Linked DNA regions of Homo sapiens. The protein of the gene in region 1 interacts with the protein of each later gene in a biochemical or structural test. Each region holds a gene or a part of one and is shown in the gene's direction. Other genes may lie near its edges.

Evidence for each region.
Region 2: of the proteins of CASP3 (region 1) and USO1, one has a biochemical effect on the other in vitro, tested with the Homo sapiens proteins (one study listed by BioGRID).
Region 3: of the proteins of CASP3 (region 1) and ATG4D, one has a biochemical effect on the other in vitro, tested with the Homo sapiens proteins (one study listed by BioGRID).
Region 4: of the proteins of CASP3 (region 1) and DBNL, one has a biochemical effect on the other in vitro, tested with the Homo sapiens proteins (one study listed by BioGRID).

What each region holds. Positions count from the first base shown.
Region 1 is NC_000004.12:184,627,196-184,629,821, reverse strand, and holds the end of CASP3 (caspase-3 isoform a preproprotein), read left to right. Parts: intron 1-320; coding exon 321-550; 3' UTR 551-2,126; downstream 2,127-2,626. UniProt on the Homo sapiens protein: Thiol protease that acts as a major effector caspase involved in the execution phase of apoptosis. Following cleavage and activation by initiator caspases (CASP8, CASP9 and/or CASP10), mediates execution of apoptosis by catalyzing cleavage of many proteins.
Region 2 is NC_000004.12:75,731,077-75,734,576, forward strand, and holds part of USO1 (general vesicular transport factor p115), read left to right. Parts: intron 1-3,500. UniProt on the Homo sapiens protein: General vesicular transport factor required for intercisternal transport in the Golgi stack; it is required for transcytotic fusion and/or subsequent binding of the vesicles to the target membrane.
Region 3 is NC_000019.10:10,542,467-10,546,703, forward strand, and holds the start of ATG4D (cysteine protease ATG4D isoform 1 precursor), read left to right. Parts: upstream 1-1,437; 5' UTR 1,438-1,624; coding exon 1,625-1,859; intron 1,860-2,242; exon of another isoform or gene 2,243-2,270; coding exon of another isoform or gene 2,271-2,316; coding exon 2,317-2,400; intron 2,401-2,490; coding exon 2,491-2,664; intron 2,665-4,237.
Region 4 is NC_000007.14:44,058,202-44,061,701, forward strand, and holds part of DBNL (drebrin-like protein), read left to right. Parts: coding exon 1-79; intron 80-227; coding exon of another isoform or gene 228-230; coding exon 231-279; intron 280-676; coding exon of another isoform or gene 677-700; coding exon 701-782; intron 783-1,152; coding exon 1,153-1,248; intron 1,249-1,341; coding exon 1,342-1,457; intron 1,458-1,846; coding exon 1,847-1,952; intron 1,953-2,575; coding exon 2,576-2,715; 3' UTR 2,716-3,500. UniProt on the Homo sapiens protein: Adapter protein that binds F-actin and DNM1, and thereby plays a role in receptor-mediated endocytosis.

The sequences.
Region 1 (2,626 bases):
ACTTTTGCATCTTACCTTCTGCGTGTTTGCTCTTCTTGCCTATTGAAAGGGGAGTCCAGAAAGTAAAACTTTCAATAATTCAGTGTTCGTGAAGCTGGTCCCCGGCCAGCTTTGCTGAAAGCAGGGGGTGTACGCATAGCACACATTCGTCCTTCAGCATCATTTCTTCTGAAACCAAAGGTGTCTTTTTTTTTTTATTTGTATGACTAATAAGACTTATGTAAGTTTATGCTTATTTTTGCCTTTATGACTACATAATAATTTATAGAATCAACTAAAATCAGCTATCCATGGTATTTTGCTTGTATTTTGCCTTTTAGGTTATTATTCTTGGCGAAATTCAAAGGATGGCTCCTGGTTCATCCAGTCGCTTTGTGCCATGCTGAAACAGTATGCCGACAAGCTTGAATTTATGCACATTCTTACCCGGGTTAACCGAAAGGTGGCAACAGAATTTGAGTCCTTTTCCTTTGACGCTACTTTTCATGCAAAGAAACAGATTCCATGTATTGTTTCCATGCTCACAAAAGAACTCTATTTTTATCACTAAAGAAATGGTTGGTTGGTGGTTTTTTTTAGTTTGTATGCCAAGTGAGAAGATGGTATATTTGGTACTGTATTTCCCTCTCATTTTGACCTACTCTCATGCTGCAGAGGGTACTTTAAGACATACTCCTTCCATCAAATAGAACCACTATGAAGCTACCTCAAACTTCCAGTCAGGTAGTTGCAATTGAATTAAATTAGGAATAAATAAAAATGGATACTGGTGCAGTCATTATGAGAGGCAATGATTGTTAATTTACAGCTTTCATGATTAGCAAGTTACAGTGATGCTGTGCTATGAATTTTCAAGTAATTGTGAAAAAGTTAAACATTGAAGTAATGAATTTTTATGATATTCCCCCCACTTAAGACTGTGTATTCTAGTTTTGTCAAACTGTAGAAATGATGATGTGGAAGAACTTAGGCATCTGTGGGCATGGTCAAAGGCTCAAACCTTTATTTTAGAATTGATATACACGGATGACTTAACTGCATTTTTAGACCATTTATCTGGGATTATGGTTTTGTGATGTTTGTCCTGAACACTTTTGTTGTAAAAAAATAATAATAATGTTTAATATTGAGAAAGAAACTAATATTTTATGTGAGAGAAAGTGTGAGCAAACTAACTTGACTTTTAAGGCTAAAACTTAACATTCATAGAGGGGTGGAGTTTTAACTGTAAGGTGCTACAATGCCCCTGGATCTACCAGCATAAATATCTTCTGATTTGTCCCTATGCATATCAGTTGAGCTTCATATACCAGCAATATATCTGAAGAGCTATTATATAAAAACCCCAAACTGTTGATTATTAGCCAGGTAATGTGAATAAATTCTATAGGAACATATGAAAATACAACTTAAATAATAAACAGTGGAATATAAGGAAAGCAATAAATGAATGGGCTGAGCTGCCTGTAACTTGAGAGTAGATGGTTTGAGCCTGAGCAGAGACATGACTCAGCCTGTTCCATGAAGGCAGAGCCATGGACCACGCAGGAAGGGCCTACAGCCCATTTCTCCATACGCACTGGTATGTGTGGATGATGCTGCCAGGGCGCCATCGCCAAGTAAGAAAGTGAAGCAAATCAGAAACTTGTGAAGTGGAAATGTTCTAAAGGTGGTGAGGCAATAAAAATCATAGTACTCTTTGTAGCAAAATTCTTAAGTATGTTATTTTCTGTTGAAGTTTACAATCAAAGGAAAATAGTAATGTTTTATACTGTTTACTGAAAGAAAAAGACCTATGAGCACATAGGACTCTAGACGGCATCCAGCCGGAGGCCAGAGCTGAGCCCTCAGCCCGGGAGGCAGGCTCCAGGCCTCAGCAGGTGCGGAGCCGTCACTGCACCAAGTCTCACTGGCTGTCAGTATGACATTTCACGGGAGATTTCTTGTTGCTCAAAAAATGAGCTCGCATTTGTCAATGACAGTTTCTTTTTTCTTACTAGACCTGTAACTTTTGTAAATACACATAGCATGTAATGGTATCTTAAAGTGTGTTTCTATGTGACAATTTTGTACAAATTTGTTATTTTCCATTTTTATTTCAAAATATACATTCAAACTTAAAATTACCAATGTCTTTGAGTTTTTTGTTGCTGTTGTTTTTGATGTTGTGCCACTAATTGGAAGTTAAAATGTTTTTAATCAGAAGCTTGATTTGGAAGAGTCAAAGAGGAAGCACCAGAACCCTAGCCTAGTTTTTTGAGGTGGTGGCAGTTAGATCAGGGCAGACAGATCGCTTATGCTTCCCAAGTCCTCGCAGAAGTTCCTGACCCTGAAATGACCACAATGCCAGGAAGATACTTTGTTTGCATAGATCTCAGGCCTTAAATATGACCATATGTGTGAATTTGAAACTTTTTCCACAAGATAAGTGTCTAATGGGAAGAACAACCTAAGAGGATATACAACAAGCCGTTGATGTTTACTGATGGCCTCCTCTGGGCGCTGGGATTTTGACAGAGGAATTTGCTGTCTTTTTACTTCATATGCTTAGAAAAGGAATATAGGAAAGTGGGGTTGTGGGTGGTTTTAAATTTCTTCCAATATTTCTGTAATGAAAATATATTAC
Region 2 (3,500 bases), about 110 Mb from region 1:
ATATTACTTGGCTGACTTAAGGTAACTATAATGGAAATGGATTCATTGGATTTGTCTACAAAGAGACTTGTGTTTGATTTTTTAATGTTCCCACATCTCTTTTTATAGATTATAATAATTTAGGTCATATGAAGATAAGATTTGCTTTTGCTGTTTTAATAAAGTCTTCTCAGTAACAGAGTTAAATTTAAAACAAATTTCTGGGCCAGGCCTGGTGGCTCACGCCTGTAATCCCAGCACTTTGGTAGGCTGAGGCGGGTGGATCACCTGAGGTCAGGAGTTTGAGACCAGCCTGGCCAACATGACGAAACCCTGTCTCTGCTAAAAATACAAAAATTAGCTGGACATGGTGGCAGGTGCCTGTAATCCCAGCTACTAGGGAGGCTGAGGCAGGAGAATCACTTGAACCCACGAGGTGGAGGTTACAATGAGCCAAGATCGCACCACTGCACTCTAGCCTGGGCAATGGAGTGAGACTCCGTCTCAAAAAAAAAAAAAAATGACTTTTGTAATCTAAAACAATAATATTTTTATTTCATCTAAAACATAAGTGAATTGACTATTAGCATGAATTATTTGTCTTACAGTTAGGGAAATTCTGTTTTAGGAAGGTACAACTATGTTTTAAATTTCAAGGTAAGATTATATCATAAAATTAAATCAATATTAGGTGCTTGACAAATATTTGTTGGATAAATGATTGATTGATTAGAGTTAGCATTTTAATTGCCATTCCTGTTCTTTATTTTTTCCTGTCAGTTAAGTAGTTACTGAATACTTAAAAAAAAGAATTGTGAAAAAATACTGCAAGCTGTATTACACTAGTGTCCTTTAATTTTTTTGCTTTTATATTTTTATAAACGATTAAACGTAAATTAGTATTGTTTCATAAGCAAATGTGTTTATGAAAATAAACATTTCTCTAAACAATATTTTTTCCCCATAACTTTAAAGTTTTAGAAGGTTACATGTGCAAGTTGTTACATGGGTAAATTGCCTGTTGCTAAGGTTTGATGTATAACCATCACCCAGGTAGTGAGGATGGTACCTGATGGGTAGTTTCTTAACTCTCGCCCCCTCTCCCACCTTCCCCCCGTTGTTGTCCCCAGTGTTGACTGCTCCCATCTTTAGGTCCGTGCTTACTCATTGTTTAGCTCCCACTTGTAAGTGAGGAAATGCAGTATTTGGTTTTCTGTTCCTATATTAATTCGCTTAGGATAATGGCTACCAGCTGCATCTATGTTGCTGCAAAGGGCATGATTTTATTCTTTTTCATGTCGACATAGTATTCCATGGCATATATGTACTGCATTTTCTTTATCCAGTCCACTATTGATGGACACCTAGGTTGACTCCACATCTTTGCAGTTGTGAATAGTGCTCCAGTGAATATGCAAGTGCATATGGCTTTTTGATAGAATGATTTATTTTTCTTTATTTTCCCTTATTTCATTAAAAACATTATAATTGAAATGACTATTAGCATGGATTATTTTAGTCTTACAATAAATAGTCATAGTTACTGGACGCAGTGGCTCAAGCCTGTAATCCCAGCACTTTGGGAGGCTGAGGCGGGCAGATCACGAGGTGAGGAGATCAAGACCATCCTGGCCAACATGGTGAAACCCCGTCTCTACTAAAAATACAAAAATTAGCTGGGCATGGTGGCACCTGTGCCTGTAATCCCAGCTACTTGGGAAGCTGAGGCAGGAGAATCACTTGAACCAGGGAGTTGGAGGTTGCAGTGAGCCAAGATCGCGCCACTGCACTCCAGCCTGGCGACAGAGCGAGATTCCATCTAAAAAAAAAAAAAAAAAAAAAAGTCATAGTTGGGGGAGTTCTGTTTTAGGAATGTTTTAAGCTTCATGAAGGTAAGGTTATATCATAAAATCACGTCTGTAGGGCCGGGTGCGGTGGCTCATGCCTATAATCTTAGCACTTTGGGAGGCCGAGGCGGGCAGATTACAAGGTCAGGAGTTCGAGACCAGCCTGGCCAATATGGTGAAACCCCGTCTCTACTACAAATACAAAAATTAGCCGGGCGTGGTGGCGGGCACCTGTAGTCCCAGCTACTTGGGAGGCTGAGGCAGGAGAATAGCTTGAACCCAGGAGGCAGAGGTTGCAGTGAGCCGAGATCACGCCACTGCAGTCCAGCCTGGGCAACACAGTGAGACTCTGTCTCAAAAAAAAAATTAAAAAAAATAAATTAAGTCTGTATTAGCTGCATGACAAATATTTGTTGAAAAAATACAGTAGTGAGACTGCTGGGTCGAATGGTAGTTCTGTTTTAAGTTCTTTGAGAGATATCCCAACTGCTCTCTACAGTGACTGAACTAAAATTACATTCCCACCAACAGTATATAGCATTCCCTTTTCTCTATAACCTCTCTAACATCTGTTTTTTGTTTGTTTGTTTTGTCTTTTTAATAATAGTCATTCTGACTGGTGGGAGATGGTATTTCACTGTGGTTTTGACTTGCATTTGTCAGATGATTTAGTGGTGTGGAACATTTTTCCATATATTTCTTGCCTATGTATATGTATTGTTTGGAGAAGTGTCTGTTCATGTCCTTTGCCCATTTTTTAAGAGTTTTTGGTTTTTGCCTGTTGAATTAAGTTCCTTACAGATTCTGAATATTAGACCTTTGTCAGATGCATGGTTTGCAGATGTTTTCTCCCAGGTTATAAGTTGTTTGTTTACTCTGTTGATAGTTTCTTTTGCTGTGCAGAAGCTCTTTAGTATAATTAGGTCCCACTTGTCAATTTTTGTTTTTGTCACAATTGCTTTTGGGCACTTAGTCATAAATTCTTTGCCAAGGCCAATGTCCAGGATGATATCTCCTAGATTTTCTTCGAGGATTTTTTTTTTTTTTTTTTTTTTTTTTGAGTAGGAGTCTGGCCCTGTCACCCAGGCTGGAGTGAGTGCAATGGTGCGATTGGCTCACTGCAACCTCTGCCTCCCGGATTCAAGCGATTCTCCTGCTTCAGCCTCCCAAGTAGCTGGGACTACAGATGCACACCACCACACCCAGATAATTTTTGTATTTTTAGTAGAGACAGGGTTTCACCATGTTGGCCAGGATGGTCTCGATCTCCTGACCTCGTGATCCTCCCACCTTGACCTCCCAAAGTGCTGGGATTACAGGCGTAAGCCACCATGCCCAGCCTCTTCTCGGCTTTTTATAGTTTTAGGTCTTATATTTATGTCTTTAATCCATCTTGAGTTAATTTTTGTATATGGTAAAAGGTAAGGGCCCAGTTTCATTCTTCTGCATAAGGCTATCCAGTTATCCCAGCACCATTTATTGGATAGGTAGTCCTTTCTCCATTGCTTGTTACTGTCAATTTTGTCAAAGATCAGATGGTTGTAGGTGTGTGGCTTTAGTTTTGGGTTCTCTATCCTGTTCCATTGCTCCATGTCTGTAATAGGCTGTTTTGGTTAGTGTAGCTTTGTAGTATAGTTTGAAGTGGGGTAGTGTGATTTTTCCAGCTTTGTTCTT
Region 3 (4,237 bases), on another chromosome or scaffold:
AGCTTGCAGTGAGTCGAGATCGCGCCATTGCACTCCAACCTGGGCAACAGAACGAGACTCCGTCTCAAAAAAAAAAAAAAAAATTAGCCAGGGGTGGTGGCATGTGCCTATAGTCCTAGCTACTCAGGTGGCTGAGGCAGGAGACTTGCTTAAGCCTCGGCAGTTGAGACTGCAGTGAGCCATGATCAGGCCACTGCACTGTAGTCTGGATGACAGAGCAAGACCCTGTCTCAACAACAACAACCAAAATCTGTTTGGGCCTCGCAAGGTTAGAGAAAAAAAATTAAAAAATAAAATAAAATAAAATATTTTCCTGTAGTCTCAGCTACTTGGGAGGCTGAGGCAGGAGGATCACTTGAGCTAAGGAGTTTCAGGCCAGCCTGGGCAACATAGAGAGAACTTGTCTCTATAAAAAGTTAACTGATTACTTTTTAAAACAAAGAGGTTTTTTTTCAGCCTTATTGAGGTATAATAGACATATACAAAACCATGCAAATTTTAAGCGTACAATCTGATGAGTTTTCACACCTGTGAAGCCACTATTACAGTTAAGATACTGAATTTATCCACAGCTCCAAAAAATGTCTTCCTGCCTGAGGTGGTGGCTCACGCCTGTAATCCCAGCATTTGGGAGGCTGAGGCGGGAGGATCTCATGAAGCCAGGAGTTTGAGACCAGCCTAGACAACATAGCGAGACCCCTTATCTACAAATAAAATTTAAAAAATTAACCAGGCATGGTGGCTCCTGTCTGCGGTCTCAGCTACTCTGGAGGCTGAGGTTGGAGGATCAGAGTTGGAGGCTGCAGTGAGCTATGAAAGCGCCACTGCACTCCAGTCTGGACAACAGAGCCAGATGCTGTCTCGACAAAACAAACACTGAAAAAAACTTTCCTGGAGCACTTCATTCATCCCTCCCTCCCGCGCCTGCCTACCCCTGGATTTTTTTTCCCTGAGCATAATTCTCATGAAGATTCGTCTATGTTGTTGCGTGTATTCCAGCCCTATTTTGCACATGAGGAAACTGAGGCACAGAGAGGCGTGGCTTGCCCCGGAGGTCACACTAGTCGATTTGGTCCCAGGCCAGGGCGGGTTCTGGGTCGGCAGCCCGCGCAGGTGCACTCGGGAGGCGGGGCGGGCGCTGCAGGTGCGCAGTCAGTCTCACCTGGGCGCCTGCCAGGAGGTCAGTCCTGGGCCCTGGGGGGCAGGACTAGGGGCGGGGCCAGGGGCAGGGGTTCCCCAGCTCTGCTGCCTCCGATAAGGGCCTGAAGGGGCTGTCGCGCTCCTGGCGGTGTGATAAGGAGGGCGGGGGGAGGCCGCGGGAAGGCGTCGGGGTTTGAGGTCCCCGCCTGGCGACCCGGGATCGGGGCAGGAAAGGCGGCTGGGCGGGGAGAGGGCGGGGCGGGGCGTCTGGCTTGGCCACGCCCACCGTCATCCGGGGTCCTGGCCCGCTAAGATGGCGATGGCTGCGGTAGCAGCGGCGGCGGCTGTTGCCTGGCCCGGTACCCTGGGGACGGGGGCCGAGTAGCGCCTTCCCCGGGCCCCGTGAACCGGCTGCGGGTCGCCCTTGGGGGGCAGCGGCCGCAGCCCCCCACCTGGGCCCTCGGTCCGCCCTCCCGGCGCGTCCATGAACTCAGTGTCGCCGGCCGCCGCGCAGTACCGGAGCAGCAGCCCGGAGGACGCGCGCCGCCGGCCCGAGGCCCGCAGGCCGCGGGGTCCCAGAGGCCCAGACCCCAACGGCCTGGGGCCTTCCGGAGCCAGCGGCCCCGCTCTTGGCTCTCCCGGGGCTGGCCCGAGTGAGCCGGACGAAGTGGACAAGTTCAAGGCCAAGTTCCTGACAGCCTGGAACAACGTCAAGTACGGTGAGGAGGGGGCCCGGAGATCGTGGGGGTGTCGGGGGCCGTTGAGGAAAACCAGACCCCGGTCCTGCCAGTTATCCCACCCTTGTTCCCGTCCTGAGTCACCTGTGGGTCCCCTCCCTGCCCGGCCCAGGGTGGACCTGTGGCAGGTCCAATAGTGTTTTCAAGCCCCGCCCATTCCCCTGTGTGACCTTGGGCAAGATCCTTTGCTTCCTGGCGCCTCCGTTTTTGCCCCTCTCTGTAAAATGGGTACAATAATCAGAACTACCTTCCTTCATCCTGAATTGATGGTGGACACTCCTGTAGCTGTCACTGGGGGCCCCACCTCCGACGGAATCCCCGGAGCCACCCCGGAGATAGGAACTAGGATCGTGCCCATTTCACAGATGGGGGAATGGAAGCGCTGTTGCTGTCATGCAAGTGCTTCATCTCGCTGGGCGCTGCCCCTACGTCTCCCCAGGTTGGGTGGTTAAAAGCCGGACCAGCTTTAGCAAGATCTCCAGCATCCACCTCTGTGGCCGCCGCTACCGTTTCGAGGGCGAGGGTGAGCTGGTGGTTGGGACCAGGGCTGGGGGAGGCCTCTCCACGCCCGCCGGAGTGTCCCTGGTGGCAGCTGACAGACCCGCTCTTGTAGGTGACATACAGCGTTTCCAGCGGGACTTTGTGTCCCGCCTGTGGCTCACATACCGCCGGGACTTCCCGCCCCTTCCTGGGGGCTGCCTGACCTCGGACTGTGGCTGGGGGTGCATGTTACGCAGCGGCCAGATGATGCTGGCACAGGGCCTTCTGCTGCATTTCCTGCCCAGAGGTGAGCCATAGGGGGGAAGGGGTGCACTAGGAGTACAGGGTCAACTGCCATATCAGCAGTATTAGAATTACTTACCAACTAAGAGTTCAAAGTCACGTTAGAATTGTGTGTCAAGTAAGTTTTGGAGAGATGAGAGTTGTTTATAAGAGTTTCAGCCGGGGTTGGAAACGGTGGCTCATGCCTGTAATCCTAGCACTTTGGGAGGCTGAGGCGGATGGATCCCTTGCGGTCAGGAGTTCAAGACCAGCCTGGCCAATATGATGAAACCCCATCTCTACTAAAAATACAAAAATTAGCCGGTTGTGGTGGCACACGCCTGTAATCCCAGCTACTCCCGAGGCTGAGGTGGGAGAATCTCTTGAACCCAGGAGGCGGAGGTTACAGCAAGCCAAGATCGCACCACTGCACTCCAGCCTGGGCAACAGAGGGAGACTCTGTGTCAAAAATAAAAATAAAAAAAAGTTTCACCAGGCACGGTGGCTCATGCCTGTAATCCCAGCACTTTGGGAGGCTGAGGCTGGTGGATCATGAGGTCAGGAGTTCAAGACCAGCCTGGCCAAGATGGTGAAACCCCATCTCTACTAAAAATACAAAAATTAGCTGGGTGTGGTGGCAGGCACCTGTAATTTGGCAAGGTAAAGCAGAGAATTGCTTGAACCGGGGAGGCGGAGGTTGCAGTGAGCCGAGATCCGTGCCACTGCACTCCAGCCTGGGTGGCAGAGCGAGACTCAGTCTCAAAAAAAAAAAAAGAGTTTTGGCTGGGCACTGTGCTGCATGCTTGTAATCCCAGCTACCTGGGAGGCTGAGGTGGGAAGATTGCTCGTGCCCAGGTGTTCAAGTCTGCAGTGAACTATGATCCTGCCACTGCACTCCAACCCGAGTGACAGAATGAGACTCCAACAATAACAGGTCGAGTGTGGTGGCTCATGCCTGTAATCCCAGCACATTAGGAGGCTGAGGCAGGAGGATCGCTTGAGCATAGGCATTCGACACCAGCCTAGGCCACATGACAAGGCTCCTGTCTCTACAAAAAAATTTTAAAAATTAGCTGAGTGTGGTGGCATGTGCCTGTGATCCCAACTACTCAGGAGGCTGAGGCGGGAGAATCTGTTGAGCTCAGGATTTAGAGGCTGTAGTGAGACGTGATTGTGCCACTGCACTCCAGTCTGGATGACAGTGAGATCCTGTCTTTATTTATTTATTTTATTTATTATTATTATTATTTTTTTTTTTGAGACTGAGTCTTCCTCTATCATCCTGGCTGAAGTGCAGTGGAGAGATCTTGGCTCACTGCAACCTCTGCCTCCCAGGTTCAAGCGATTCTCCTGCCTCAGCCTCCTGAGTAGCTGGGATTACAGGTGCCCGCCACCACGCTTGTCTACTTTTTGTATATTTTTTTTTTTATCAGAGAAGGGGTTTCACCATGTTGGCCAGGCTGGTCTCGAACTCCAGGCCTCAAGTGATCCACCTGCCTTGGTCTCCCAAAGTGCTGAGATTACAGGCATGAGCCACCGCGTCTGGCTGAGATCCTGTCTTTAAGTAACAAAAAATAAATAAATAAATAAGGATAAGT
Region 4 (3,500 bases), on another chromosome or scaffold:
GCCGGGAGCGTGAGCTGCGTGAGGCTGCACGCCGGGAGCAGCGCTATCAGGAGCAGGGTGGCGAGGCCAGCCCCCAGAGGTGAGCCAGAGGTGGAGGCTGGCCTGGGGGACCCACCCTGAGGCATTGCTGGGCACCTGCTCCATCCCATGGAGGCGAGGAGGACTAAGGGGTGTGGCATGAGAAGCTGTGACTGTGCCTCAGCTGTGCCCCACCCGGCCCTTCCCAGCAGGACGTGGGAGCAGCAGCAAGAAGTGGTTTCAAGGAACCGAAATGAGCAGGTAAGATGGGGGTGCTCTACTTGTTTGGACCTGTCCTGGCCACACGCAGAAGTCCCTGATCTCGGATTGAGGGCCCAGCCCAGACCTGGGCAGAGGCTGCCCTGCAGTCAGCTGGGGCAGGTTGGAATCTGGGCACCTCAAGAGGTGGCAGTAGAGAGGAAAGCCAAAGGCGGAAGCGTCGGGCTTGGACCACACCTGGTCCTGGGGGAGGCCCTGGGAGCCCCTTGGCTTCTGTGTTTTACTTCCTTTTTTAACGTTACTTTTTATTTTTAAATGACTTCTCTCCTGAGAACATGTTTTGCCTCCTGGCCCCACACTCACCTTTGAGGGGCTACTGGGCCGACAGCTGGAGGGGCTGTGATCTGGGGAGAGGTGGTGAAGGTTTTGCCCACTGCAGGGGTCAACATGTGCTTCCCTCCAGGAGTCTGCCGTGCACCCGAGGGAGATTTTCAAGCAGAAGGAGAGGGCCATGTCCACCACCTCCATCTCCAGTCCTCAGCCTGGTGAGCTCTCCCTTTGGGCCTGGCCATGAGGCAGCAGCAGGCTGAGGGGGAGCCTGGGGTCCTATGTGGGCTCCCCCAAGGCTAGTGACAGATATATCGGTGACGGGTGAGTGAGTGAGGAGAAGGGACACCTGGGGCCATTGACCTCATCAGTGACCACACTGGTCACCAGTTTGGCCTCCAAAAGATATTGGGCTGCGCTGTCTACCACGTCACCACATAGCACATGGCCCTGGGGCCTCTGTTCCTGCACTAGCAAGAGCAAGCCCCATGAGACTGCCTCGAGCACACCAGGGTGGAGGGTGCTGTGGGGTGCGTGGGTGTGTGGTGGTGTTTCTGAAGTGATGTATATATTTACCCGGGTTTGCAGGCAAGCTGAGGAGCCCCTTCCTGCAGAAGCAGCTCACCCAACCAGAGACCCACTTTGGCAGAGAGCCAGCTGCTGCCATCTCAAGGCCCAGGGCAGGCAAGGCGCTTGTCACCCCATGGGGACCCTGGGGGACAGCAGTGGAGAAGGGGGATGTGTGGGAGTGAGAACCTGCTGTGTTCCCTGGTGCAGATCTCCCTGCTGAGGAGCCGGCGCCCAGCACTCCTCCATGTCTGGTGCAGGCAGAAGAGGAGGCTGTGTATGAGGAACCTCCAGAGCAGGAGACCTTCTACGAGCAGCCCCCACTGGTGGGTTCCTACACTGGGGCTGGGGCCAGGAAGGGGCTGCATACTCAGGAACACTTATCACGGGCCGCCTGAGTTTTCTGGGGGCATGCAACAGGTTTTAAAGCACATGCATTTTTGGAGCAGCCCTGTGTTATAAATTGTCAGGGCACGCCCCACTCTATAGGAGGTGCTGGGTGGGAAGAGGACCTTGCAGCCTATGGCTGAGGGATTTATGCACTGTCCTGTGGCTTCTGTACTCTGGTAGGGCGGGGACAGCAGCAGCCCAGCCCCCGAGCCTGTAGACTGCTTGCCCTCTGCGTACTCCCAGCTTGACCTGAGCCATGTGGGGCAGAGCAGCGATTGTGTGTAAGGGCTGAGTCTGGGGTAACACCTTTGTCATCCCTGGGCAGGTGCAGCAGCAAGGTGCTGGCTCTGAGCACATTGACCACCACATTCAGGGCCAGGGGCTCAGTGGGCAAGGGCTCTGTGCCCGTGCCCTGTACGACTACCAGGCAGGTAAGGTGCCCTGGCCTGGCTGGCACAGACCACAGGGTCCTGAGGTTAGGAGACAAGAGGGTCTGGGGTTTTATGGGAAGATGGCACCAGGGGGTATCAGGAAGAGAAGACAGGAGGGTGGGCGGTGCGTTTAGGGGTAGAAGCACCTCTGGAGTGGGGGTGACTGTGGCACTAGAGTGTTCTGCACAGCCCAGGCCTCCCTACATGTTCCTCATTAGCTATTTGCTGGCCGCTGATGTGAATCCCAGTTGCCACCCTTGTCACAGAACATGGACTCTGAGCAGGGAGGTGGGCCAGGCCTGGATGCTGGTTCACCAGGCGTCCCTGGGTGGAGGCCTTGGAGAATGGGGTGGAGGCCCCCTACGGAGCAGGCTGGTGTCTACTCTAGCCTTTTTTGGGAATGCTCTGTAGGAGGGTATGCCCTGGGGGTGTGGTCACTGGAGCCGCATTGGGACAGGGTGCAGTGTTGGCCAAGGCTTAGCAGGGTGGCAGGGATATTTCTGAGGAGGAACCAGAGCTGCAGCGAGGTGTGCTGCAGCAGTGTGGGGCTGCCGTGGGCTGCCCGAGCAGGTGGGATGTGGGAGGGAGCCCCTGATATGCATCTGGGCTCATCCTCTTTGCAGCCGACGACACAGAGATCTCCTTTGACCCCGAGAACCTCATCACGGGCATCGAGGTGATCGACGAAGGCTGGTGGCGTGGCTATGGGCCGGATGGCCATTTTGGCATGTTCCCTGCCAACTACGTGGAGCTCATTGAGTGAGGCTGAGGGCACATCTTGCCCTTCCCCTCTCAGACATGGCTTCCTTATTGCTGGAAGAGGAGGCCTGGGAGTTGACATTCAGCACTCTTCCAGGAATAGGACCCCCAGTGAGGATGAGGCCTCAGGGCTCCCTCCGGCTTGGCAGACTCAGCCTGTCACCCCAAATGCAGCAATGGCCTGGTGATTCCCACACATCCTTCCTGCATCCCCCGACCCTCCCAGACAGCTTGGCTCTTGCCCCTGACAGGATACTGAGCCAAGCCCTGCCTGTGGCCAAGCCCTGAGTGGCCACTGCCAAGCTGCGGGGAAGGGTCCTGAGCAGGGGCATCTGGGAGGCTCTGGCTGCCTTCTGCATTTATTTGCCTTTTTTCTTTTTCTCTTGCTTCTAAGGGGTGGTGGCCACCACTGTTTAGAATGACCCTTGGGAACAGTGAACGTAGAGAATTGTTTTTAGCAGAGTTTGTGACCAAAGTCAGAGTGGATCATGGTGGTTTGGCAGCAGGGAATTTGTCTTGTTGGAGCCTGCTCTGTGCTCCCCACTCCATTTCTCTGTCCCTCTGCCTGGGCTATGGGAAGTGGGGATGCAGATGGCCAAGCTCCCACCCTGGGTATTCAAAAACGGCAGACACAACATGTTCCTCCACGCGGCTCACTCGATGCCTGCAGGCCCCAGTGTGTGCCTCAACTGATTCTGACTTCAGGAAAAGTAACACAGAGTGGCCTTGGCCTGTTGTCTTCCCCTATTTTCTGTCCCAGCTCATCCGTGTCTCTGAAGAACAAATATG